Linked DNA regions of Homo sapiens: all the other regions are reported to be linked to region 4. The links are microRNA targets in miRTarBase. Many come from high-throughput screens and were not tested one by one. Region 4 holds a microRNA gene; each other region holds the end of a gene's coding sequence.

Evidence for each region. Region 4 holds the annotated microRNA hsa-miR-619-5p (GCUGGGAUUACAGGCAUGAGCC, at 2,852-2,873, opposite strand). A microRNA usually pairs through its seed, bases 2 to 8, with sites in the 3' UTR of a target mRNA and lowers its output. Matches are read on the target gene's strand: a 7mer-m8 pairs with bases 2 to 8, a 7mer-A1 pairs with bases 2 to 7 and ends in A, and an 8mer does both.
Region 1: miRTarBase lists ZNF707 as a target of hsa-miR-619-5p. The part of its 3' UTR that is shown has no 7-base or 8-base seed match.
Region 2: miRTarBase lists A4GALT as a target of hsa-miR-619-5p. Seed matches in the 3' UTR shown: 7mer-A1 at 3,930-3,936.
Region 3: the mRNA of C15orf40 is a reported target of hsa-miR-619-5p. Seed matches in the 3' UTR shown: 7mer-m8 at 838-844, 7mer-m8 at 972-978, 7mer-m8 at 2,146-2,152, 7mer-m8 at 2,374-2,380, 8mer at 2,645-2,652, 7mer-m8 at 2,995-3,001 and 3 more.
Region 5: the mRNA of PTPN4 is a reported target of hsa-miR-619-5p. The part of its 3' UTR that is shown has no 7-base or 8-base seed match.

The regions. Positions count from the first base shown.
Region 1 is chr8:143,693,592-143,698,696 of GRCh38, reverse strand. It overlaps ZNF707 (zinc finger protein 707), which reads right to left. Exons shown (of 6, transcript NM_001100598.2): 6 at 3,312-5,026. The coding sequence ends at 4,167. LINC02878 (long intergenic non-protein coding RNA 2878) reads right to left here and starts at 1,582. Exons shown (of 2, transcript NR_015445.1): 1 at 1,056-1,582; 2 at 284-758.
Region 2 is chr22:42,688,575-42,693,661 of GRCh38, forward strand. It overlaps A4GALT (alpha 1,4-galactosyltransferase (P1PK blood group)), which reads right to left. Exons shown (of 3, transcript NM_017436.7): 3 at 3,547-5,087. The coding sequence ends at 4,316. Among named protein-coding and RNA genes, the nearest start is that of A4GALT, 30 kb to the right of the region's middle. RefSeq lists enhancers at 1-170, 4,483-5,004.
Region 3 is chr15:83,001,289-83,006,393 of GRCh38, reverse strand. C15orf40 (chromosome 15 open reading frame 40) reads left to right here. Exons shown (of 4, transcript NM_144597.3): 4 at 702-5,105. The coding sequence ends at 797. Among named protein-coding and RNA genes, the nearest start is that of C15orf40, 7.8 kb to the left of the region's middle.
Region 4 is chr12:108,834,111-108,839,215 of GRCh38, forward strand. MIR619 (microRNA 619) reads right to left here and starts at 2,896; the gene lies at 2,798-2,896. All of the region lies in intron 2 of SSH1 (slingshot protein phosphatase 1), which reads right to left. RefSeq lists enhancers at 3,752-4,951, 4,256-4,385, 4,945-5,105.
Region 5 is chr2:119,976,666-119,981,770 of GRCh38, forward strand. PTPN4 (protein tyrosine phosphatase non-receptor type 4) reads left to right here. Exons shown (of 27, transcript NM_002830.4): 27 at 319-5,105. The coding sequence ends at 405. Among named protein-coding and RNA genes, the nearest start is that of EPB41L5, 34 kb to the right of the region's middle.

The DNA of each region.
Region 1 (5,105 bases), not on the chromosome of region 4:
AACCCACCCATTTCACATTCCCCAAAACGTTTCGTTTGGTGGGCCTGTGATTTAGCTCCCAAGAGGTCACAGATACAAACACAACGAAGCGAGCTATTAGGGCTGGACATGCACTCAGTGACGCAGCTGTCCCTCCACCCTGGCCCGGGTCAGGTTCTGCCAACTCCACACGCACACTCTTCGTTTGAAGGGTCCCAATGGGTTTGAGGACCTGTAAGACTGGTACGCACGGCGGACCCCATGAACACCCAGAACAACAGTGAGTAGAGTTTATGATACGTTGTAACTAGAATGACCCCAAATATCTTTATTTACTTGGCATTGTACTTCCCAAAGAAGAATATTGCAGCCACTGGGCCTCCCTTCAGAGTGCAGAGAGGCAGCTCCAGGAGCTGAGCCTGCTGGGATGCAACTCCTCCTCCTAGCACCATGGACTCCTTCATCTTTCAGTCAAGGCTGCCAGTGGCTACCACGTGGCCCTCCCATTCCTGGAGCTCTCAGCTGCATCCGCCACCTGCTCTCTCGACGGACTTTTTTTTTTTTGAGATGGAGTCTCACTCTGTCGCCCAGGCTGGAGTGCAGTGGCACGATCTTGGCTCACTACAACCTCCGCCTCCCAGGTTCAAGCAATTCTCCTGCCTCAGACTCCTGAGAAGCTGGGATTACAGGCGGCAGCTACCATGCCCTGCTAATCTTGGTGGACTTTACACTGGACACATGTGTGCTGAGCGCTAACACAAAGGCCAGGCAAGTGTCCCCTGGAGACAGAGGGGTGGAAGGCTAGGTCACAGGCATGGCTGTCAACGGACCCTGCTGTGCACCCATTCTGGCCGCGAAGTAGCTTCATGCATTCTCTGCCCAAGATAAATGCAGAGAAAACTCGGCTCTACAGGCTCACAGGGAGTGACGGCTGCTGGCCCCAGGAAGGAAGATGCTCCTTACGGGACACCTGCTGTGAGCCCCTTCTGTCACCCCACCCCCGCCTGGGTGGTGAGGAGGCCAACAGGGCAAGATGCAGAGCCTCCCGGCCCCTCACACCCCCATGGGCTCCTCACCACCATTCTCTCCCCAGGCCTTTTCTGTGGACCTGACCTTCTTCAGCGACCCAGGAGGCAGGAAGGGAAGCCTGAGTGTTAGAAGGAAAGACAACTAAGAGCAGCAGCCTGACCGCAGCTGAGCACGGTCGTGCTCCTCCCTGGGGAAGTGCCAAGGGAGGGACCCCCTGCTCTACCCGGAGCCCTGGAGCCCTGCTAAGCAGGGTGGAAAGCCTGCAGCCCGGGGGGTACCGCGACTGTGGCCCAACCATCCAGTGTGTGAGCCCTGGATGATGAGGCCACCAAGAGCAAGGCAGCCCGCTTGGACAACTGACCATCATCTGACGAGGCAGCGCATCACCCACGTCTCTGCTGTTCACATTTAATCCTGCACAAGAGCGTCACAAAGTGACAGCATTGTGAGGGACTAACGACCAGGCACAGGTGACCCTGGACGCGGCCAGTGGCTTCCTGCAGGGCGCTCAAAACCCAAGTCCTTATGATCCGCCGCATCTACTGCCGAGACACCAGCTGCTCCGTCCCCACCTGTGCTCAAGCACCTGAAGGCCCTTCCAACGGCGCCCGCTGGGCAGGGGACAAACCAGACACGAAACACACATGCGCTTTTACCAGCCTGGACTCTGTAAGAGAAAGGCACCCCCATATCCCCCCTGGGGAGATTTCCACTTATCCTGCAGGGCCCTCACTGCCTCACCGGGCTCTGCCAGGGCCTGCCCCGCAGGGGCAAGTGCTTTTCCTACACAGGGTCTGTGGGCCAGGACAGACCCAGAGGAGCTTCTGCTACGGGCTGAATGGTCACTCTGAAATTCCCATGTGGAAGCCCTAGGCCCGACGTGATGGTATGAGGAGGTCTCTGGGAGGTGATTTGGCTTCGATGGGGTGATAGGGGTCATGGGATCCGGGCCCTCACAAGGAAAAGGTGACACCAAAGCCCCTCCTGACATGAGGATGCCTCTGAACCAGGAGGCGCTCGCCGGAAACGGACCCTGTTGGCACCTCTACCTCGGACTTCCAGCCTGCAGAGCTGGAGAGAATAAACCTGTGTTGTCTGTGGGGCTGCCGGTGGTGTCCTGGTAAGGCAGCCCTGTGACTCCATGACCGACAGCTGCTCTCTACAATCTTCCGTGAGCACGAAGAAACTCATACTCATGCTGCAAATAAAAGATTTGGGGAACTTTTAAGCACACCAACCTCCCGGCTTCAACAGCTGTCAACATTCAGCCAATACTGTTGTGTCTTTCTCCTCTTTATTAGAATCGTAAAGTACATCCCAGGCGCCACGTCATTTCCCCACAAAGACGTCCAAATGCATCTGAGTGAGGATTCCTCCGTAACCCTGTGTCACCATCACCGCTAGCAGCCAATTCCGCACCCCCACCCGACTCACGGCCCACCCACCCGACTCACGGCCCACCCACGCAACTCACGGCCCACCACGCAACTCACGGCCACCCACCCGACTCACAGCCCACCCACCCGACTCACGGCCACCCACACGACTCAGTCCATCCACCCGACTCACGGCCCACCCACCCGACTCAGTCCATCCACCCGACTCACGGCCCACCCACCCGACTCAGTCCATCCACCCGACTCACGGCCCACCCACCCGACTCAGTCCATCCACCCGACTCACGGCCCACCCACCCGACTCAGTCCATCCACCCGACTCACGGCCCACCCACCCGACTCAGTCCATCCACCCGACTCACGGCCCACCCACCCGACTCAGTCCATCCACCCGACTCACGGCCCACCCACCCGACTCAGTCCATCCACCCGACTCACGGCCTACCCACCCGACTCACGGCCCGTGCCCACATTTCCATGATTGTCTCAAAAGTGACTTCGCACTCGGTTTGCTCCTACCAGGGTCACACACAGCCCCCTCGGCCTTTCTGCGTGCCCGTCTTCCCACAGAAACGTCGCCGTCTGGTGGCATCTCCAGCCGGATCTGGCTCAGGGCTTCCTCTCGGTGTGTTCAACCTTCTCCTCATCCCCCTATTTCTTGTAAACTCGTTTCTGATTCCAACATTACATATGCATCTGTTGGCTGGAATTTTTTTTTTGAGACGGAGTTTCACTCTTACTGCCCAGGCTGGAGTGCAATGGCGCAACCTTGGCTCACCACAACCTCCACCTCCCGGATTCAAACGATTCTCCTGCCTCAGCCTCCCGAGTAGCTGGGATTTCAGGCGTGAGCCACCACGCCTGGCCTGGCTGCAATTCTTAAAGAAAAACAGGCAAAAGCAAAAATAATTGGCTAACCTGAAACACGGCAGTGTCCCGACCCATTCCCACGGGGGTCTTCCCTTGGGAACACCACTGGCAGATTTTTATTTCTGGCTGGATAAGCAGACACCTTAAGTTTAAAACAAAGAGGTCACCTCTTCCCCCACGAAATGCGATGTGGTGGATATGGCCACCTCACTGCCCTGAGACCCAACTTGATCTCCCAACTCCAGGTGCATGACCCAGGCTCTGACCAACAGAGCTGGGTGGAGGCCGTTCCTGCAGCACTGGGGGTGGCCCTGACCTAACCACCACTCCTAATCCTTGAATGAGGTTCAGTATTACAAAGGCTCTTGTTTCTACGGCCCAGCGCAGAGGCTGCAGGAGGGTCTTTGCCTCTGTGCAATGCTCACAGCTGCCTCGCCCAAGACAGAGACAAGAAGGGAAGCCAGACCGGGCAGCCAGCATGGGGTGCAGAGCCAGGAAGGAAAGGCCCAGCAGACGGCGACTCGGGGCCAGGGTGGAGTCCCTGAGCCAGACGGCTGTGGGCACCAGGCAGGCTTCTCCGCCTCTGAGCCCGGCCTGGCACGTGGCTCCGGGGTCGCGCACACTCTCAGCACATCCCCAGGATGCCCGGCGCCGGGGCGCAGCCCCCGCCATCTCCAGAGCCCCCGCCATCTCCGGCGTACCCATGGCTCTGCTTCTCCCACCTGGCAGTTTTCCCAGTAAACTTCTCGGGGGACTGGGGAGCTCTGAGGACTAAGAAGGCTTCTCTGAATTCAGGTTGATTTTCCAGGCTGAAGAGCAACTTCTCACTGCAGCTCTCCCTCAGGACCCAGTACTCCCGCAGAGGCGCAGCACCCCACTCTTCGGGCGCCCCTACACCTCCCCGTGCCTGTGAGTCCTCTGATGCCGCGTGAAGAACCCCAGGTGACGGAAGCCTTTCCCACAGTGGCCGCACTCGTAGAACCTCTTCGTCAGGTGCAGCCTCCGGTGGATGCTGAAGCCCTTGGGCCACCGGAAGGACTTGCCGCACTCGGCACAGGTGTAGGGCTTCTCCCCGCTGTGGACCCTCTGGTGGTGGCTGAGGTTCTCCTTGGTCCGGAAGGCTTTGCCGCAGTCCGCGCAGTAGAACGGCCGCTCCCCGGTGTGCACCAGCTGGTGTCTGAGAAGGTTGGACTTCTGCTTGAAGGCTTTCCCACAGTCGCCACACGAGTAGGGCCTGTGCTCGGTGTGGACCTTGCGGTGCTGAGCCAGGCGGTCCTTCAGGCTGAACGCCTGCCCGCAGGCCTCGCAGCAGAAGGGCTTCTCGCGCGTGTGGTTCTTCTGGTGGCGCTGCAGGTTTGAAGCCCACCGGAAGGTCTGGCCGCACTCGGGGCACTCGAAGGCCTTGGTTCCCGTGTGCACCGTCTGGTGAGCGAGCAGCCGGCTGTGGCAGCTGAGCGCCTTCCCGCACGTGCCGCAGATGAATGACAGCTCTACTGCGCGCTGCTTCCGGCGCTCTCTGCGGCCCGGCCGCCGCCCACAACGCTGCGTGAGCACCTGACACGGGAAAGCCGTGGGCTTGGCGTCTGTCCTTTCTGGAGCAGCTCTGGGAAGCTGCCCGTCATCCGTGTCCAGCCTGAAGCCCTTCCTAAAGCTGCTTCCTTCCCTGGCTCTTTCTCGCCGCACGTGGGTTTTCTTGTGAGCCCAAGCTGGATGATCACAAGGTCTCTTGGGGTCTGCAGACTTCCTTGCCCCTGTGGAAGGAACAGACACCCTTACACAGAGCCAGTGGCCCACAGCCAGGCAGTGCCTCCAGCAAAGCCCAGAGGAGGC
Region 2 (5,087 bases), not on the chromosome of region 4:
GATCCTCAGAGCAGCGGTTTGTTCCTGGCTTGTTTCTAGTGGGTGTGTTCACAGACGTTTTTGGCCAGGACTGAGAAAGACGTGGACCTATCCTTTACTGGGGGAGCACTGCGTGGCCTGGGGCCGGTGTCCAGTCGGTTATTTAAGAATCTTCCCAGCTGGCCAGGCATAGGCAAGCAGGGAGTCGTTTTCCCAGCAGCTCTAGGGGAAGGAAAATAATTCCCCCTTGCTGGTGTATCAATATTCAACTTCTTGTTTAAATATTAAATTGTAATGTCCTCTGAGTGCCCAACAGAGATCGGGGATGAGTGAGCCCCCGTGTTCCTGGAAGTCTGGTTTCATGGTTCACTTGTTCCTAAATCTCTGCTTGTTCTAACTTGGACTAGCCCAGTGCAAGGCGTGCTCGGAATTCTGCTGTGAGGTTGGGGGTCAGGGTGGGACCAGGCTTCAGGCCCTGGACTCAGGTGTGATCTGTGCTGCGGTGGGGTTGGGGGAGGAGGAGCATCCCCTTCCAGGGTGGGTGTGGCGGCAGCAGCAGCAGCAGCAGCAGGAAACCAAGGGGAGGTGAGACGTGAGACATTCCTCCCAGCTTTAGTCCACTGCCAAAAATCAGAACCCAGCCCCGGTCCCCACCAACTTCCAAGGAGAGAAACGAGACCAGGCCAGGCACGGTGGCTCATGCCTGTAATCCCAGCACTTTGGGAGGCCAAGGTGGGCAGATCACCTGAGGTCAGGAGTTCGAGACCAGCCTGGCCAACACAGTGAAATCCTGTCTCTACTAAAAATACAAAAATTAGGCCAGGCACGGTGGCTCATGCCTATAATCCCAGAACTTTGGGAGGCCGAGGCGGGCTGATCACCTGAGGTTGGGAGTTTGAGACCAGCCTGACTGACCAACATGGAGAAACTCTGTCTCTACTAAAAATACAAAATTAGCTGGGTGTAGTGACGCACACCTGTAATCCCAGCTACTCGGGAGGCTGAGGCAGGAGAATTGCTTGATCCCGGGAGGTGGAGGTTGCGGTGAGCCGAGATCGCGCCATTGCATTCCAGCCTGGGCAACAACAGTCAAACTCTGTCTCAAAAAAAAAAAAAGAAGATTGTTTCTGTCTCACATTACAGTCCCAAGGTGAGTGCTCCAAGGCCACTGGGGCCACTCTGCCACCCCCAAAATGTGCCCTGCAAAGCACTCCAGCTGCTGCCATGCTCCAGCCAGTGGGAAGCGGGTTAGAGTGCCCAAAGCAAATGTCTTTAAGATCATCCATGAGTTGCCCGCATCACTCCTGTTCACATCCCATTGGCCTGGACTTAGTCACATGGCCACAGCCAGCTGCCAAGGGGAGGTGCTATGTCTGCCTAGAACTCGCTGTGTTCTTTTTCTAAGGACCACAAGAAGAATGGACACTTGAGGATGGTAAATAGCATCTAACACACGAGACAAGGAGTCGGGATAGGGCGCTTTCAGGGTTGGTTAATTCAGCAGCTCGCTGAGGTCTTCATGTCTTCAAGGATGCAGTATGGTGACATTTGATCTCAGACTTGTCCCCTCACGGCCTCAAGATGGCTGCCATTGCTTGGAGCATTACACCCTTTTGCCAAATGCAGAAATGTTGCTTTCTTGTCTATGAACATTTTCTCAGAGCCCTCTTTTCCAGCTGACTTGCCCTCTCATTGGCCAGAATAGCATTATATGCCCATTTCCACTCAAATTACTAGGAAGGGACTGGAATGACTAGGACTGGCTTAGACCAAAAGAGATTCACCCCCAGGCCTAGGGAGGGCCCACTTCCTCTACAGCCCTAAGCTACCTGAGGGTTGAACAAACTTGGGGTTTCCTTAGCAAGAAAGAAGCGGGAGGAGAATGGCCGTGGATAAGGAGTCAACAGCATCCTCCCTGGGAACTGGCACTTCCTACCCACCTCTCTGCCCTAAGCAGACATTTATGCACATAATTTCATAATTTCCTTTTTTTTTTTTGAGATGAAATCTCAGTCTGTCACCCAGGCTGGAGCGCAGTGGTGCGATCTTGGCTCACTGCAAACTCCGCCTCCCGGGTTCAAGCAATTCTGCCTCTGCCTCCCGAGTAGCTGGGACTATAGGCGCCCCAAGTCATGCACAGCTAGTTTTTGTATTTTTAGTAGAGATGGAGTTTCACCATATTGGCCAGGCTGGTCTTGAACTCCTGACCTTATGATCTGCCTGCCTCAGCCTCCCGAAGTGCTGAGATTACAGGCATGAGCCACCGTGCCCGGCCTTTTTTTTTTTTTTTTTTGAGACGGAGTCTCGCTTTTGTCAGCCAGGCTGGAGCACAGTGGTGCGATCTCGGCTCACCACAACCCCTGCTTCCCAGGTTCAAACAATTCTCCTGCCTCAGCCTCCCGAGTAGCTGGGATTACAGGTGCCCACCACCACACCTGGCTAATTTTTGTATTTTTAGTAGAGACGGGGTTTCACCATGTTGGCCAGGCTGGTCTTGAACTCCTGACCTCATGCTGGCACCGAGTAGGCACTCACTGTATGATGGTCAAATGACTAAACAATGCTGGACTCTAAAAGGTCATCTCACTTGTTCACATACATATATAGTTAGGATATGATTTGTATTATTTAAGTAAAACCTGCTCATTTGAAATGCTGCTGTGGCTGGAGAAATCACTGACTTAACAATCCTTTGTATTCATCAAAAACAAAACCTGGGCCAGGTGCAGTGGCTTACCTGAGGTCAGAATCGCTTGAACCCGGGAGACAGAGGTTGCAGTGAGCCGAGATGGGGCCACTGTACTACAGCTTGGGTGACAGAGCGAGACTCTGTCTCAAAAAAAGAAAGAAAGAAACCCAAGAAAACGACACATAACCTGCTCTTGAATACTCCTAAGAGCCAGGGAGCTCACCTCCTTCCCACGCTGCTCAAGACGGTCTGTGGGCAGAAAACGGAGGCCAATGAATGCCTCCCCCTTCAGCTGCCAAAAAGCAGCCTGCTGGGCCCCAGTGTTCCTGGCAGCACCCCCAGTCCTGGTGGGGAACGCCTAGGCAGCTTCCACAATGCAAACCAGCTGGGGTCTCGCCCTGCGGGGAGCAGATATTCCTATGGCCCAGTCCTGGAGCCGCCCACAAGGCACTTCAGGTCCCTCCCGGGATTTCAGCCACAGGCCCTCACAGCTCCCTCACTGGGACCTCTCCCTGGATGGGTGGCAGCTCAGCCCTGCTCCGGCGGTGGGCTCCTCAGTGTCCACATTTGGTCCCATTTATGTTAAACAGATTCAGGCTTGTCATGGGGGGAGTTGTGCTGGTGGGACCCAACCTTCCGTGTTTGTGAGCCTTGAAAAAGGAGGAGGGAAAAACAGGCTCCCCCCATTCCCCACTGCGGGGGCTCTCCATCACCAGGGACACTGGGGCTATGAGCCAGGTCCCGAGCCCTTCCGTGCTGGGCAGGTTGTGAGACCTTGGCAAAGTCACCACCAGTCCACCCAGTGGATTCCCCGTCAGAAGAATGGAGCGGAGGAGGCTGTGAGCCTGAACACACTTCACCAATCACAAGGCCCGAAGTGACAGTCGGTCACTTTTATTCTATTGATTATTCTCCTGTGTTTATAATGCGGGCGGCAGGGTGGGGGTTTCTTTAAAATGCTTCTCCTGAGCCTAAAGAGCCTCCCCACCCAGCCCCTGTCTGAGGGAAGGGGCAGAGCATACACGCCCCCCTGGCATCTCTGGAGAGGAAGAAGGATGGGGTGGGCAGAAGGGGCTGCCCCCAAACGGCTCCCCAGGCTGGCACTTCTGGGCCTCTGCCCCACTCAGTCCCTGTTGACCTCCCCCACCCCCCGCGAAAGAGGAACCAAAACCAGAAAAGAACAAAGCATCCTCCGCCCCGGACCCTTGGGGCTGGGTCTCCCCCAGCCCTGCCACTTTCCTACCAACAGCCTCCTCTCCTCTCTGGGAATCTTGTCCCTTCTTCCCCATCCCCTTAGCACCGGCCTCTGCCCTCGTGGGCACCTCTGTCCCAACTGCCTGGCTTTCCGCACCACCTGGGGGTGCCCTGAGGTTCATCCTTCCTGCCTGTTGTCTAGAAGGCCCGGGGCACTCACTGAGCGCCCTCCGCTGGCTATGGCACCATGTGTCAGCCCTGCCTCGAGACAGGACACTGTCCTCGGGGTGTCCACAGCCTCCCACTGGGCCTGCTCCCACAGCTCCTCAACAGCCTGCCTAAGCCCGGTGGCAGCTCGGGCCTCCCTCTCCCGGGCCCTCAATCTTGCCTCCCCGGGAAGGGCGGCCCAGTGCCCCATCAGGAGCAGGTTGGGGAGGTGACCTGGCGGGCCCCTCACAAGTACATTTTCATGGCCTCGTGCGTCGTGGGGCAGTAGCGGGCATGCAGCTGGGCCAGCAGTGCCCTGGACGTGGCCTCGAACCGCGTGCCCTGGCTCTTCTTGTTCCACACGTGGACAGCATAGGTGGCACTGAGCAGCCGCGGCAGCTCCTCGGGGTTGATGTCCTCAAAGTACTTCTTCCAGTCCTGCCAGGGGATGGGGTAGAAGGCCTCAGGGGGCAGGGTGGTGACGCCGCGGCAGGCGCGGCTCTCGGCCAGGCTGCGGATGGAACACCACTTCTTGAAGACCCGCGTGAGCAGCTGCGGGCCCTGGTGACCCCAGATCCAGCCGTTGTAGTGGTCCACGAAGTCCCGCATGCACAGCGCCATGAACTCGTGCCGGCGCTCGAAGGCCAGGAACGCGCCGTTGAGGACGTAGCGGGACTGGGTGCCCAGCACGTTGGTCAGGTTCCGCAGGTTCTTGAGAACAATGAAGTCCGTGTCCAGGTAGATGCCGCCGAACTTCCACATGAGTGCGATCCTGGAGGCGTCGGAGAGCACGGGCAGCAGGTAGGGCTCCCAGCGCCCCTGCACGGCCGCGTACCAGTCGGCCAGGGGTGTGTCCCGGAACAGCTCCCGCAGGTCCAGCGGGAGCATCTGGACATTCGGGAAGCAGCTCAGAAGTGAGATGCCCAGGTGCCGGGGCAGAGAGGCGTTGCCACCCGGAAGCCCTTTCATCAGGACCAGCACGTGGGATTCGGGGTGAGTTCTGGCGGCCGACTCCACC
Region 3 (5,105 bases), not on the chromosome of region 4:
TGTTTAACAACATAGAGAATAGCAATTTGTTTATATTTATAATTATTTTACTACAAAGTTTATATAAAATTGCAATATTTATTTTGGTATTTTAAAGATGATTTTCATTTTTAACTTAATTGCTTGAGACTAGAATATCATTTTTTAGATTTTTTTTTTTTTTGAGATGGAGTCTTGCTCTGTTGCCCAGGCTGGAGTGCAGTGGCGCGATCTCAGCTCACTGCAGCCTCTGCCTCCTGGGTTCCAGCGATTTTCCTGCCTCAGTCTCCTGAGTAGCTGGGATTACAGGCACATGCCACCATGCCCGGCTAATTTTTTGTATTTTTAGTACAGACGGGGTTTCACCATGTTGGTCAGGCTGGTCTTGAACTCCTGACCTCGTGATCTACCCACCTTGGCCTCCTAAAGTGCTGGGATTACAGGCGTGAGCCACCGCGCCTGGCCCATTTTTGAGATTTTAATGTCCAGCTTTTATTATAGAAATTGATGTATGAAGGTAAAAACCCTGGAGAGTTGTTAGTACTAACAAATGTTTAGTAACAAATGGTAGTAAGGAAGAATCTAAGAGATAGTCTTTGGTTAGACCAGAAGTAACCAAGAGAAAGCCATCAGGAGAGCCCATTATACAACGGAGGTCTGCTATCTCTAATAGCATTAGAATGTGCTAAACAGTAAAGTATGCTTTTTCTCTTTTGGTCCAGGGTGGTAAATCTCGTGAAAAGGTGGTGAAGCTTTTGGCTTCTACAACTCCAGAAGAGATCTTGGAGAAATTAAAAAAGGAAGCCAAAAAAACATAAAAGCAAGAAATGAGGCCGGGCGCAGTGGCTCATGCCTGTAATCCCAGCACTTTGGGAGGCCGTGGTGGGCGGATCACCTGAGGTCAGGAGTTCGAGACCAGCCTGACCAACATGGTGAAACCCCATCTCTACGAAAAATACAAAATTAGCCAGATGTGATGGCGCATGCCTGTAATCCCAGTTACTCAGGAGGCTGAGGCAGGAGAATCACTTGAACCTGGGGGGCGGAGGTTGCAGTAAGCCGAGATCGCGCCGTTGCACTCCAGCCTGGGCAACAAGAGTGAAACTCTCTCCCCCCGAAAAAAAAGAAATAAAAAATACATCCTTGAGAAACTTTTTTATTGCTAATGGTGAAGAGGCTGTTAAATAGAAAAATATACTACATGCACAGAAGAACATGGGGGACATATATATATGTATATATTCGAATAAGACTCCAAAAAGTAGAAATTTAAAAAGTGCTATACATTGCATCAGGTTCTAAAATCCCAAACCCCAAACAGCCTGGAACATGTTACTCTGATTTCATGGCGTTGTAAAATAACAGAGCTGGGAAGAATATTCAAGATGACCTGATTTAACACCTTTCATTCTGTTGGGGGGCCTTTGATTTCCTATATCCAGAAGTTGAGAGACTTACTCAAGATTGTACCATGCAAGCTGGCAACTAGAACCCAAATCCTTGGACTACTTGTTGAATGCAGTTTTTCTAGATTGTAAATTAAAAATCATATCTCCACAACGGTTCTGGAATTCTGGGGATTGCCTTCTAATCCAGTTTACAAGTGACAGAAAACCTGTTATGCTGCTTTGTAGTCTTACCTTAGATTTTTAAATGCTTATTTAAATGTAAAAAAAATTTTTTTTTTACATCTTTTAAAGACTATATTTACCATTTTGTTGAAAAAGTAAAGAAAAATCATGACTTGTAATTAAATGTGAATTATAATTTTTGAGAAGTCACTGAATTTTCATCTTCCTCTAATAACTTAAATAATCAGCAAATTCAGTAGTTTTTATGAATCTCCAAAGATCCTTAAAAGAAGAAAGAGGACTTGGAAGCTATTTTCAGTATTTGTAAAAGCTTGTCAGAAATTACATCTATATTAAAGTTTCAAAAGCTAATAATATATTTTTACATCTTCAGGTCAAGTTATAGTAATTTATTAAAGAAAATAAAATTAATTTCCTTTGCTGATCAGGAGAGCTGATCTGCAGTTGTGCGCTTTGTCCAGCAAGTACATGAGAAAGATGTATTGATGGACCAAATCATTAAAAACAAAATCCACAAGGAAGAACAATAATAAAAATTGCTGATGGTAGCTGGGCTTGGTGGCTCACGCCTGTAATCCCAGCGCTTTGGAAGGTTGAGGCAGGAGGAACACTTGAGCCCAGGAGTTTGAGACCAGCCTGGGCAACGAAGTGAGACCCTGTATCTGTCTCTGTCTCTTTCTTTATAGATAGATAGATATACATAGATAGATTTTATACATAGATATATATATTTATATGTAAGATTATATATAAGACCTCATATATAAGAAGTCCAGGCCGGGTGTGGTGGCTCATGCCTGTAATCCCAGCACTTTGGGAGGTCGAGGCGGGTGGATCACCTGAGGTTAGGAGTTTGAGACCAGCCCGGCCAACATAGTAAAACCCCATCTCTACTAAAAATATAAAAACTAGCCAGGCATGGTGGTGGGTGCCTGTAATCTCAGCTACTCGGGAGGCTGAGGCAGGAGAATTGCTTGAACCCAGGAGACGGAAGTTGCAGTGAGCCCACACGGTGCCACTGCACTCCAGCCTCGGCGACAAGAGTGAGACTCCGTCTCAAAAAGAAAGAAAAAATCCCAGACAGTGAAAGAGAAGCTACTCGTCTAGTACAACTCTTAACTTGTACCAAATAGGTATCAAGGGCAAGAAAAGGTGGCTTATGTGAGATCACAGTGCACATTAATGGCAGAGCTTGGTTTAAGCCCAGCTGCTTTGTCTTCTAAACTGTGCCATATACTGCCTGCAAATGTGCTTCTGTTTTACATGGTCTTAAGAGCTTTTCCCACTCTTTCTCAAGACCATTGCCATGTGTGCTGTAAAGCCGTTTTACTTGTGGATTTTACATGGATCACTGTTAGAATGTCATAAAATGATATCATAAAAGATCAACTTTCCTGGCCGGGCATGGTAGCTCACACCTGTAATCCCAGCACTTTGGGAGGCCAAGGCAGGTGGATCACCTGAGGTCGGGAATTCGAGACCAGCCTGACCAACATGGAGAAACCCCATCTCTACTAAAAATACAAAAAATTAGCTGGGCGTGGTGGCACATGCCTGTAATTGCAGCTACTCGGGAGGCTGAGGTAGGAGAATCGCTTGAACCCGGGAGTTGGAGGTTGCGGTGAGCTGAGATCGTGCCATTGCACTCTAGCCTGGGCAAAAGGAGCGAAACTCCATCTCAAAAAAAAAAAAAAAAAAAAAGGATCAACTTTTGGTCAGGCGTGTTGGCTTACGCCTGTAATTCCAGCGCTTTGGGAGGCCGAGGCAGGCAGATCACGAGGTCAGGAGTTCAAGATCACCCTGGCCAACATGGTGAAACCCCGTCTCTACTAAAAATACAAAAGTTACCTGGGCATAGTGGCAGATGCTTGTAATCCCAGCTACTCGGGAGGCTGAGGCAGGAGAATTGCTTGTGAACCGGGACCCTGGAGGCAGAGGTTGCAGTGAGCCAAGATCGCACAACTGCGAACTGCGCTCCAGCGTGGGCTGCAGAGGCAGACTCCGTCTCAAGAAAAAAAAAAATCAGCTTTCTTTCCTTCCCCTGAATCTTCTGCAGTGCCAGTTTCATCCTCAGGCCCACTTGTTTCATGTAGACAAAAGGCCAACCAGGTTTCATATTCACGTATCAACCCCTGCAGTAGGAGAAAAGGCCACTCCTAGGAGCTCTGGTATTTTCCAGAAGCTTTCAGTCAGCCTTCCCTTGTATCAGCCCAAATCAAGTCACATGAAATTTCTAAGCCAGCCCCTGTGATCAGGGAATGCCATTCTATAACACAAGTTCCCTAAAGCAGTAACTATAGAAGAAAGAATTACCCTAATTGTTTCAGGCCAATTAAGGCCCATCCTAGAGGTGGAAATGGGGTCAGCATACTCAGAAGCAAAGAAGTAGAGAGAGTTGGATACCTGAATAAAATTGGGAAAAGTTACAAAGAGAGGAATGGATGCTGGAGAGGAACCACCAGTTTCTACTACGATAACCTATTTACTTCATTTTAAACGGTGATATTTTAAACGTGGGAACATTTTGCCTAGTGAGTTTTTTTCTTTGAGAAACGTAGCAGTATCTTGTAACAAAGAAGATATGGGGACACTCTGTCATCAAAAACTACTTTGGGGCCGGGCATGGTGGCTCACACCTGTAATCCCAGCACTTTGGGAGGCCAAGGTGGGTGGATCACCTGAGGTCAGGAGTTCAAGACCAGCCTGGCCACCATGGTGAAACCCCACCTCTACTAAAAATTACAAAAATTAGCTGGGCGTGGTGGTACATGACTGTAATCTCAGCTACTTGGGAGGCTGAAGCAGGAGAATTGCTTGAACCCGGGAATCAGAAGCTGCAGTGAGCCGGGATCACACCACTGCACTCCAGCCTGGGTGACAGAGCAAGGCTCTGTCTCAATAACAACAACAAAAAAACAGAAACAAACAAAACAAAACAAACTACTGTTGGAGGTAGGAACTGGCCCAGGGGCTGTATTCCCAGAACACGATTCCCTTTTCCCCACTGCAAACAAGATAGTCTACAGCAGCCTCACAACTTAATTGTCTCACACAGGACTATTCCTACTGTTAAGAGATCACAGCTAAGGCTTGGGCACCTTGACCTGCTGTAGAAGCTCAGTTAATGTACTTTTCATCATCTGGGCCCTGGTATTCCCCTGTAAATACTGAAGTAGACCCAGTGACCTAGTGCCCAAGACACAAAATATTCAGCCTCCGTAACATTTGTCTAATGACATGGTTCTAGCTTTGCTCACTCCCATTAATTTCAAGTGAGTACTGGCTAGGCAGTCTATAGTGACTTGATTACACTGTCTTTCTTGTCCTGTGCTGTCCTGAGAATCCTGGATTTGAAGCAGCCTATGAATAAGGTTTGAAAAATATTTATCCAACTATGCCGACATATGATGTTCTAGCACTGCATCTGTCATCTATCACCCGCACCTTAATAAATGATAATTACTTGTGCAAACATGATGTATTAATCACTTATTAACTTGGTTGCTTACTTGACAGACACTGCTAGGTGGTTTG
Region 4 (5,105 bases):
GGCTTAGAATATAGTTAGAAAACAGTATTTCAGAATAAAAAACCATTCTTGTATTACCTCTCGCACTATTCCCCCTGTTCTCCATGCTTCGCATTCTCTGTTCTATCCCCAGCTATAGCACTGTCCCCATAAAGCCTACTGTGGTTCTCGGCTCATGGTGTCCTTCCTCCCATCTGCCTCCCGACGTCATGCCTGTCTTCCAGTGTTTATGCCTTCTCCAGGAAGCTTTCTCTTGTGGCCCTCGCTGTGAGCTATAGCTCCTCCCTTTCAACATCTTCTAGCACCTCCTCTTACTGTGCAGGTGAGGACACTGAGGCTTAAGGGTTAAGTCACTTGCTCAAGGTCACATACAGTCGGTCCTCTGTATCCGCGGGTTCCTCATCAGTGGATTCAACCAACTACAGACAGAAAATACAGTATTTGAGGGATGCTGAACTCTTTGAATTAGTGGGTTCTGCGGGTGCTTAAGCATCCATGGATTTTGTTATCCTCGGCAAAGGCGGGGGTCCTGAAACCAATCCCCTTGGATACTGAAGGAAAGACCACCCTTAGTGATAGGAACCTAGGAACCCAAGTTCCCTCATTTCCAAATCGTGTTCCCTGACCCACTTATTTACTAACTAGTGGTGAAGCCATCTTCCTGCCAGTATATTTTAACTTCACAATGGGATGTGAGGGCCAGGATGCACATGCTTTTTAAATCTCCCTCTGTGCTTGACATACAGTAGATTGAAAGTAAGTGCTGGTAGATACACTGGCCAAGCTGTGCTCTTCTCTGAAGTCAGTATTCCAGGAGTAACTCACCCTGGTCATCTCTGTGCCCTGGGCACACTGGGCACTCCCCACACACAGGTTGAACCTGGCAAATAAGACTCACAGCATCATGCCACGTGCGAGTTAAAGCCACCTGGAGGTCAGGTCAGGTCTTCCTGACAACTGAGTGCTTCAAATAACACAACAGCAGCTAAGTTCCCCACATCACCTTGAGTGTCTGGAGAGCTAGGCCTATGACTTCTCTGTCTCAGGATCCCTCTCAGTGCCCAGAAAACAGTGGACATCAATAAATGTAACACCAATAACATCTTCGTTGAGCGCTATGCTAAGCACATCAGGTATGTTAACTCATTTATTCCCCAGTGTCCATCTCTCAGTGTTTTATACATACGGGAACTGAGGCTCAATTAGCCGAGCGTGGTGTCGTGCTCCTGTAATCCCAGCTATTGGGAGGCACAAGAATCACTCGAACCCAGGAGATGGAGGTTGCAGTGAGCCGAGATTGTGCCACAGCACTGCAACAGAGTAAGACTCCGTCTTAAAAAAACAAAAAAACAGAAAACAAAACAAACAAACACTGAGGCTCAGGGAGGTTAAGTCACCTGCCCAAGTTCATGAGACCAAGGAGCCGGGAAGCAGGAAGGGGAAGGCAGGAGTGTAACTCTGAAACCTCTGCTCTTAGGCACTGGCTTTCAGCTGAACTGATACCTCTGGAAAACAGTCTCAAAAAAGTCCACTTCTCCTCCCAACAATTCAGACCTAAAAACCATTTGGCGGGGAAGGGCAGGGCAAGCTTCTGAGTTGGGGAGGGGGTGTGGGATCCCAAGCTGAGGTGTCTGTTGGCAAGCAGGGTGCAAAGGGCATCTGTGCAGGGAGGGGGCTGCAAGGGAGACAGAGACTGCTCACAGGCAAGGAATGAAATATTAAACATTAATGTTAATATTAATATTTATAATTAATATATTTATGATATATAGCATATATACATATTATATTAATTAATTATAACTATATTAATATAATTAATTATAACTATATTAATATAATCAATTATAACTATATTAATATAATCGATTATAACTATATTAATATAATCGATTATAACTATATTAATATAATCGATTATAACTATATTAATATAATCGATTATATTAATATTAATATAATCAATATTAACAAATATATACTATATAATATAAATAATACCTAAGTTTATATAATATGCATAATGTTAATATTTATTAATATTTCAGGGACAATGGGAGTCATGAATATGGAGAGACAAAACTAGAATGAACCCCAAGGTGCTGCATCAGAATTGAAGGTACCAGTCTGAACTCATAGTTTTCAACCTATTGAAATAAATATAGATGCACGTGTGTGTGTATGCACGTACATACAAATGTTCCCTAATTCTGCCCATTGAGAGGCCTGTGGTTAGCAACACCCCAACAGCAATAAGCAGACCTAGCTTGGCTCCTAAATTTCATTTTCCACTAAAAGGAACCAGAGCCCCTTGGATAAAGGACTGATTCCACAGGTGGGTAGGGAGCATCTGTTGCCAGAAAGCAAGAAAGCACTTAAAGAATGATGTGGACATGTCAAAGGGACACAGAAGCCAGCCTGGATGAGATCCCACTGGCCCTAACTGTCCACAAGGACAATTTGAGCAAGGATGTCAACAATTTAAGAGCAGATTATAAACCACTGAATAAAACAGAAAAATACAAAGAATTGAAACGGACATTGATGGCAGACAGGATATTAACATAATTTTAAAGTATCTCTCCAAGGAATGCTTCTGAATGATGAAGGGGAAAAGAATAACTGTACAGTGGAAAAGCCTGGTAAAACCCACCTTAGTGACCAAAGTGAATGTCACCATAGTGGGACAAAAGGAAATCAAGTGCCACCTTATGGGATTCAACGAGGACGCAGCATCCCTTGGGTGATGTTCCAGCCAAATACACGTGCCCGGTGGAATCACACAAGAACATCAGACACACTCACACTGAGGGACACTCTGCAAACTGACAGTACTGGGCACAAACATGTCCAGGTCATGGTCGACCGCAGTGGCTCATGCCTGTAATCCCAGCATTTTGGGAGGCTGAGGTGGGCGGATCACTTGAGGTCAGGGGTTCGAGACCAGCCTGGCCAACATGGCAACACCCTATTCTCTACTAAAAATACAAAAATTAGCCGAGCGTGGTGGAGCATGCCCGTAATCCCAGCTACTTGGGGCGCTAAGGCACAAGAATCGCTTGAACCCGGGAGGTGGAGGTTGCAGCGAGCTGAGATATCACCGCTGCACTCCAGCTTGGGCGACAGAGTGAGTTTCCAACTCAAAAAATAAAAAAATAAAATAAAATCCAGGCCACAAGAGTCAAAGAAAGACTGAGGAAGGTTCCAGACTGCAGGAGAGCCAAGAGACAGGATAACTAGATGCAATGGGCAGTCCTGAATTGGATCTTTTGTTATGAAGGACAACGCTGGGACATATGGTGACTCTTGAATGGGGTTAGAGGACTAGACGGTGGGAATGCATCAGAGTCAGTGTCCCGCGTGGATGGCTGTGTTGCGGTTCTGTGGGAGAATGCCCTGGTCTGTATTCCAAGGGTAATGGAGTAGCAGGTTGACAAATTACTTTCAAATGGTTCAAAAAAGAAAGTTCTTTTCACTGTACTTGCAATTCTTATGTAAGCTGGAAATTATCTCAAAATTAACGAGAATTTTTTATCGACGTAGTATTTTACATATTTATGGAAAACATGTAAGTATTTGTTACATGCATAAACTGTGTAATGACCAAGTCAGAGTATCTGGGGTATCCATGACCTTGAGTATTAATCATTTGTATGTGTTGGGAGCATTACAAGTTTTCGAGTTACCAATTTTTTTTTTTTTCCTTTGAGACAGGGTCTTACTCTGTCGCCCAGGCTGGAGTGCAGTGGGACGACCACGGCTCACGCAGCACAGCCTCCACCTCCCAGGCTCAAGCGATCCTTCCACCTCAACCACCCAAGTAGCTGGGACTACAGGTGTGTGCTGCCACCCCCAGCTAATTTTTTAATTTTTTTGTAGAGACAGGGTCTCACTATGCTGCCAGGGCTGGTACTGAACTCCTAGGCTCAAGAGATCCTCCCACCTCGGTCTCCCAAAGTGCTGGGATCATAGGCATGAGCCACCATACCCAGCCAAATTTTTTAAAGTTATTTTTTAAATCTCCACTTAATTCGATTTTGGTAAAACACGACCTGTAATTTTTCTTTATCGGTAGGTAATAAAAGCTTCAGATGATTTTACTGATCACTGGTATGGGCATATTTCATGACTTTGCCCTTTCATCTCTTGCATAGTTTTACCCTCACCAAGCAAGACCTTCCCTGCCTCAGCACTGTTTGCCCTCTTCGTGTTTTCCAGAACAGAAGTGGCCCTGTTTCGTGCCCAGAGCAGAAGAGAACGATGAAGAGCTCTGCTCTCCCAGGTCTTCCTGGTCTGTGTGTGTCCAGGTTTTGAGGGCCTCTCACATACACGGCTCTGGACCACGTAAGATCTAATTTTAGCATTTTCCTGCTCGGAGACCACATGTTTGGAACAGCAGGGGCTGACCTGCCCGTGCAGGCCTCCTATTGTGAAGGGCACGCGAAGCCAGGATACCGCAGCCCTGCAGGATGTGACTCAGCATCCTGTCTCAGTGCTGGGGCGGCCAGCAGCTCTGGCACCAAGTGCTGCTGCTGACCTCACCTCTTAAGACCACAAATACCCAGGGTAATTGGTGGGATAGGCATGCAGCATCAGCTCTCCCTGTTAAGACAACTTGCTTGTCCATCCATTATGCTGGGCTTCCTTGTGAACACCACAGGTATCTATCAGGAAGAGTTCTTCCGAGGAACTGATCTGCTGGTATTTTCAGGACACCAAGAATCAAGAGATTGGTCTTGTTTCTCTCTTTGCTTTGACTACCAGGAAACTCAAAGTCAGATCTGTGGCCAAATTCTGGTAACCATACCAATGCTATGTCATGTATTACATGTACAAACCTTCCCCTTACTTCATCTTATTTTCTTCTGCTTTCTTCGTGTCCCGATTTTCTCACTAATGTTACATTCTATTGTTCTCTATGAATGTTGTAAGGTGTTTCAAATCCTTTTTGGAGGGCACTACTGTAGATACAACACACATTACCCCTGAGGGATAAGGACTCTTTTTGACTCCACACAGAATCCCTGGCATTTGGCAAAGAACCCATATTTAGGCACTAAATACACATGGGCTGAATGGAAAAAGCCAATAGCTAAGTAAAAACCACCTCCATTACCATATTGTTT
Region 5 (5,105 bases), not on the chromosome of region 4:
TTCTTAGAAGTGGGATTGCTGGGTGAAGAGGTAAATTAGGTTAATTTTCTTATATGCTGCCAAATTCCCCTTTATAGAGGCTGCAGTATTTTAACATCCCTACCAGCAACATATAAGTGAGTTTTGCCAACAAAATATATTGCCAAACTGTATTTTTTAACCAGTCTAGACTGTTAGTGAAAAATGGTATCTTTATGCAGTTTTGTTTTGCATTTTTTAAGTAAGCAAGCCAAGTGAGATGTTTGTCTTTTTTGGGGGGAGAGGGGACGGTTTTCTGACTTTTCTGATCAGTTCTGTTTTTTATATTTTATTTTTCAGAGTCAATACAGATTTGTATGTGAAGCTATTTTGAAAGTTTATGAAGAAGGCTTTGTTAAACCCTTAACAACATCAACAAATAAATAAGAAAGCAAAAAGATCTGGGATATGTGTTGGAAAACTGCTTTCCCTTATGTTCACTGTGCCATAATGCTGCTCGCAGGAAATGGCATTTTACAAAAAAAAAATGAAGAACTCAAAAAAACTTTGAAAACTTCAGCACTGTTGCACTTTATGTTTTAAAAAATGTCACTCTTTCAAAATCTATAACTCATGTATTTGAAGACTGTTTCATGCTTTGCTCCGAACAAATAGTAAATAACTGAGTATGTTCAGGGTAATTTATGAAATTTTGTGGTGGTGCCATGCAATCCCCTTTTGGTAGAATTGCCACAAACAAGGCTCAAAATTCTCATCATCTCTGTTATACACCTGTATCATGAAAGCAAAAAGAAGTAAACATCAGGAGTCAGCTCTGGTCTTTTGCAGTGGTTTGCGTACTTACTATACTGATTACCAGATTTTATTTTTAAAATTTTAGCAATATCGTTCTTAATATTAGCCAATACACTGCCTATGGATGCAGCACATTTTTCCCTGCACACCCCCTGTAGAGACCTGCCTGCTGCTCAGAAGAAGAAAGATGGAATTTGCTGTTCCCAGGAAATGCTGCACATTGTCCATTTACCAGCATCTTATAGAAAATATAAATATGAATCTACAAATTCTCTTGGATTTAATAATGTAACTTATATTTATCATAAGGTTGGCTTATTCCAAATCATGTGATTTCACATACTTGATGTAAAGGAATGCATGCATTGTGTCTTAACCCCTTAAGTGCCTTGAGACGTCCTTGTATGTCTAACGAAAAGGCACTCATTTGACCCCACTAGGAGGTATATATGTATATTGTACATTCGTATATTTTTATGCATTTTGAATAAGTTCACATTTTAAAAAACAGCTATATTGAGTGTTATACAGTCAAAGAAGGGTAAGGAAATTCTGTTTCTTACTCAGTACTCGTGATTTGCTATAAGAAGCAAAGATAATTTGTGTTCTACTGAGTGCACACTGCTGCTATGGAATTGTTCAAAATCTGCACATTCCTTTACTTGAGGGACTGAGGGGTTACGGTTTAGCAGCTCAACTTTAAAAGATGCTTTTATGCTTCAAATTTCATATTTATTTCATCCCTAACTTTAGGAAGACATCTAACATGCAGATTAATGTTAAACATATTGATAATCTAAGCTAAAGTTAGAGCAAATAATTGTGATTTATTCATGTCCATAACTAAAATATTATTCTTTAGCACTCATTTCAGTTAATATCAAGCTTTGTTCACACTGATATATTGATTGGGATTCTTCAAACGAAGAATGAAACATTATTGACTTATTTCTAAGTGTAATAACTCAATAACTAAATTGAGAATTTTCTTGTTTTTTTGTGTACAATTAAATTATTCCATTTTATATATACTTATTAAGTTATAAGCATGTTAATAAGGAGACTTTTGACTGTCCAGCCTAATGGAGGATCTGATTCCCATTAAGGATGTGGGAATTCCCGTATTTTCCTCTTCAGGTTTTTTTGTTTTTAAGTCTACAGAGAGATAGAACCTTAACATTGCCCAGTTTGATAAAAGTGAAAATTTGCTCACCTATACAAATGTTATTTTACACAATTATTTTATGTGGATTGGGGTTTTAAAAGATTCATTTCCTAGCAGTTTCTGAATATTTCTGTAAGATCTTGATAAAGTTTAGAGTCAAATGGCAGATATTTTGGAAAGCCATTTAGTATGAGGGGAAGAGTACACATTTTAAATCTTTGGTATAATCTAAACGATGTCATTTCAGACATTCAAAACTCATAATAATAAATTTCAGGAAATCAAGCTCCTAAACATTAATAGCCAAGATACCAAATAAATTATCATATTAAAATATTTAAGTTTATTTAAAGAGAGAAGTAAACATAAACTTATGTCAAAGAGAAATTCTCTTAATCTATTTCCTGACTTCACAGTCAAAACAGTATAAGATAGTGAAGTAACTTATAATCTTATTTGGTCATTCTGTTCTATAAACAGACAAATATAATTTAGGCTGCTATATGACATGATAAATTAAAAACTGAGAAAGTAAAATTATGTCGGGGTCTACACATTAAATGACTGTTTTGGCAGTTTTTCACCTGAATTTAAAAATAAAATTTGTCTGTTCTATCTGTATGGACAGAATATGACAACCATAGACCAAAAGATATCATTGTATAGATGTAAAGAGACAAAAGTCATGGTTGGCATGTTCTTTAATTTAGGGCCTTGTTTATACTTGTGAGTTTAATAATTTCTTGGCAATGAGCACTGCTGCCTTTTTAAATCATCAATGCCTGTCTTTAAATGCCAATCATTAGAAGTTTAGAATTACATTTAAATTTCTCATATATGAATTTTTCATCTGGGAACTACCCACTGTCGTCATTTTTATGTGCAGAAAAGATCCTTTTTGAAAACCATATTTATTGGGATCTTATTTAAATTTAAATTATCCTTTACAACTTCTTAAAATGAATATGCTAATAGATAAGACTTTATCCATTACATCTAAGAACTTTTTAACCTGTATATCAATCTAAATAGGTTTCTAGAAATAATCCTAGCTTTCATACACCATGTAGTTCTAGACTCCGTCCATATCAGTGTAACATTGTGTGATAAAATGCCAAATGTCTTGTATCTAAGCTACGCTCCCACTCTTCCAGCCACCCCTACCTCCCACCTTGACACCCTTAAGAAAGCAATGCTGACTTTTATTCTGACAAGTGGAAATCAATAGTGGTTAATCAAGTGGATTTTGTAAATGCTAAGAAGTGTTTGTGAAAACCTTCCCTTTCTGAGTTAGGATTGTTTTTTCCTGTTCATTTCAGGTGTTTTATTGAGCATCTGATTTGTGTCAGCACCATGTAAATATGATGAGGAGTATTTGGAATAGACTTTACATTCACCAGAAAATTGATAGTATTTGTTAAACCAATGCATCCATTCAAAATAGAGGCAGAGTAAACAGCCTAAGAAATGATTTCCTTTCTACAGTCTGCTAGGAGAAAGAGGTGAGAGGGGAGTGGTTGATGATTTTAATCAAGAGTAAAGGGAACATTTATTACATGAAATCTGACTTCAGTTGTGCAAAGGTATGTTAAGACATTAAGACAATTGCTGGAAGGTTTCAAATATGTGTACACACACATAGAGCTACTTTTGTGTGTTTATTTATATGTATATTTCACAAAGGCTAATGCCCACAGAGGAAAATGATTATTTTAACTTCTGGGTTATCATCTGCTGGCAGGGTCTGATCAGGTCTAGAGTATTTAAGGAAAAGTCTCCTGTCTTCTATCTCCACTAGAAGTACTGCAGCTTGAGAGCTGAAAGGAACTTGAAAAATGTTATCCAGTCTTCACTTAGCCCATTTTTATCGGCATTAGGAAATAGGGTTCAGCAATGGTTATTGATTTAGCAGTCTGGTCTTATATGATCTGCTTTCTAATTATCTATCTAGTATTCCTATATTATACTGGAACTTCAATAAATTATAACCTATGTGAATATCATAAATTCTTGTGAATTTTTGTCTATTTCCAGTAGAGAAGCATACTCAGCCAATGTTTTCACTTAATAACTATGACAACCTTAAAGGATGTCACTTAAGTTAGAAAATAAGCAGGCTTAAGAAGTGATTCTAATTAGGACCCCCACTCAGTTTGCTAGTCATGCCTGCCTGACAGAACATAAGCTTTTGTAAAGTATTTAGACTGATAACACATGCAGTATGAAAACATTATAGACTGCAGTTAGAAGACTAATTTTTTAAAAGCACTCAAAACATAGAACTAAGATTTAGAATATATGTCCATTTATAATGAAATAATTTGTGTTCATAATGTGAACATGTAAGATAAGTAAATAAAGCATTACTTGTTTTATAATATCAGGAAGAGAGAAGGAAACATTAGTTTATAACAATGTGCTATTTAATATCTGTATTTTGAACATTTAAAATACTCTGATGGTAAGGTTGCCAAAGTAATTTTGAATTCATAAAAATTGTTTATACCACAATAATGTGGGATATGTTTACAGGCTCTTTTATTTTGTGGTAGTTACTTTATAGTTCAGATGAATTTGCATTTCAGTCACTTATAGTAAATAAAGTATATTAAATATTTGTTGGAATAAAAATCTCAATGTAATAGGACATAGATAAATTATGCAACAGCCTGCTTTGATGAAAGCTGGTGCATTATGTGAGCTGCCACAGTTAATACTTTGTATTAACATTGCTTACTTCCCCCATTTGCTTCACCTATCTGACTACAATTGCTGGAATCATTCTTTTTGTGGTGCTTCCTCCAAGTGAAATAACTATGTTATTAAAACCTACTGGATTAATTTTATCAAATATCAGACTTACTGATCTCTTGGCAGAGATTTATTGGTGTCTCAGTGTGATCACAATACAAGTTGTAGCAACCATTTTATAAAACTCTTAGAGAATTATGTAGATAAAATGGAAATTACATAATCCTAAAACATTTTTGAGGGCTAATTGATAATAATTTCAGCAATTTTATTAAGAACCCAGTAAATTAATCCCTAATTTGTATGTTTTTTGTTCAACTTACCGTGTCTGCAACCATTATATAGACTTCATTGATACTCAGCAATTACTACAGTGTGTCTTACAATGTTATAAAAAACAAACAGCAATCTCTGT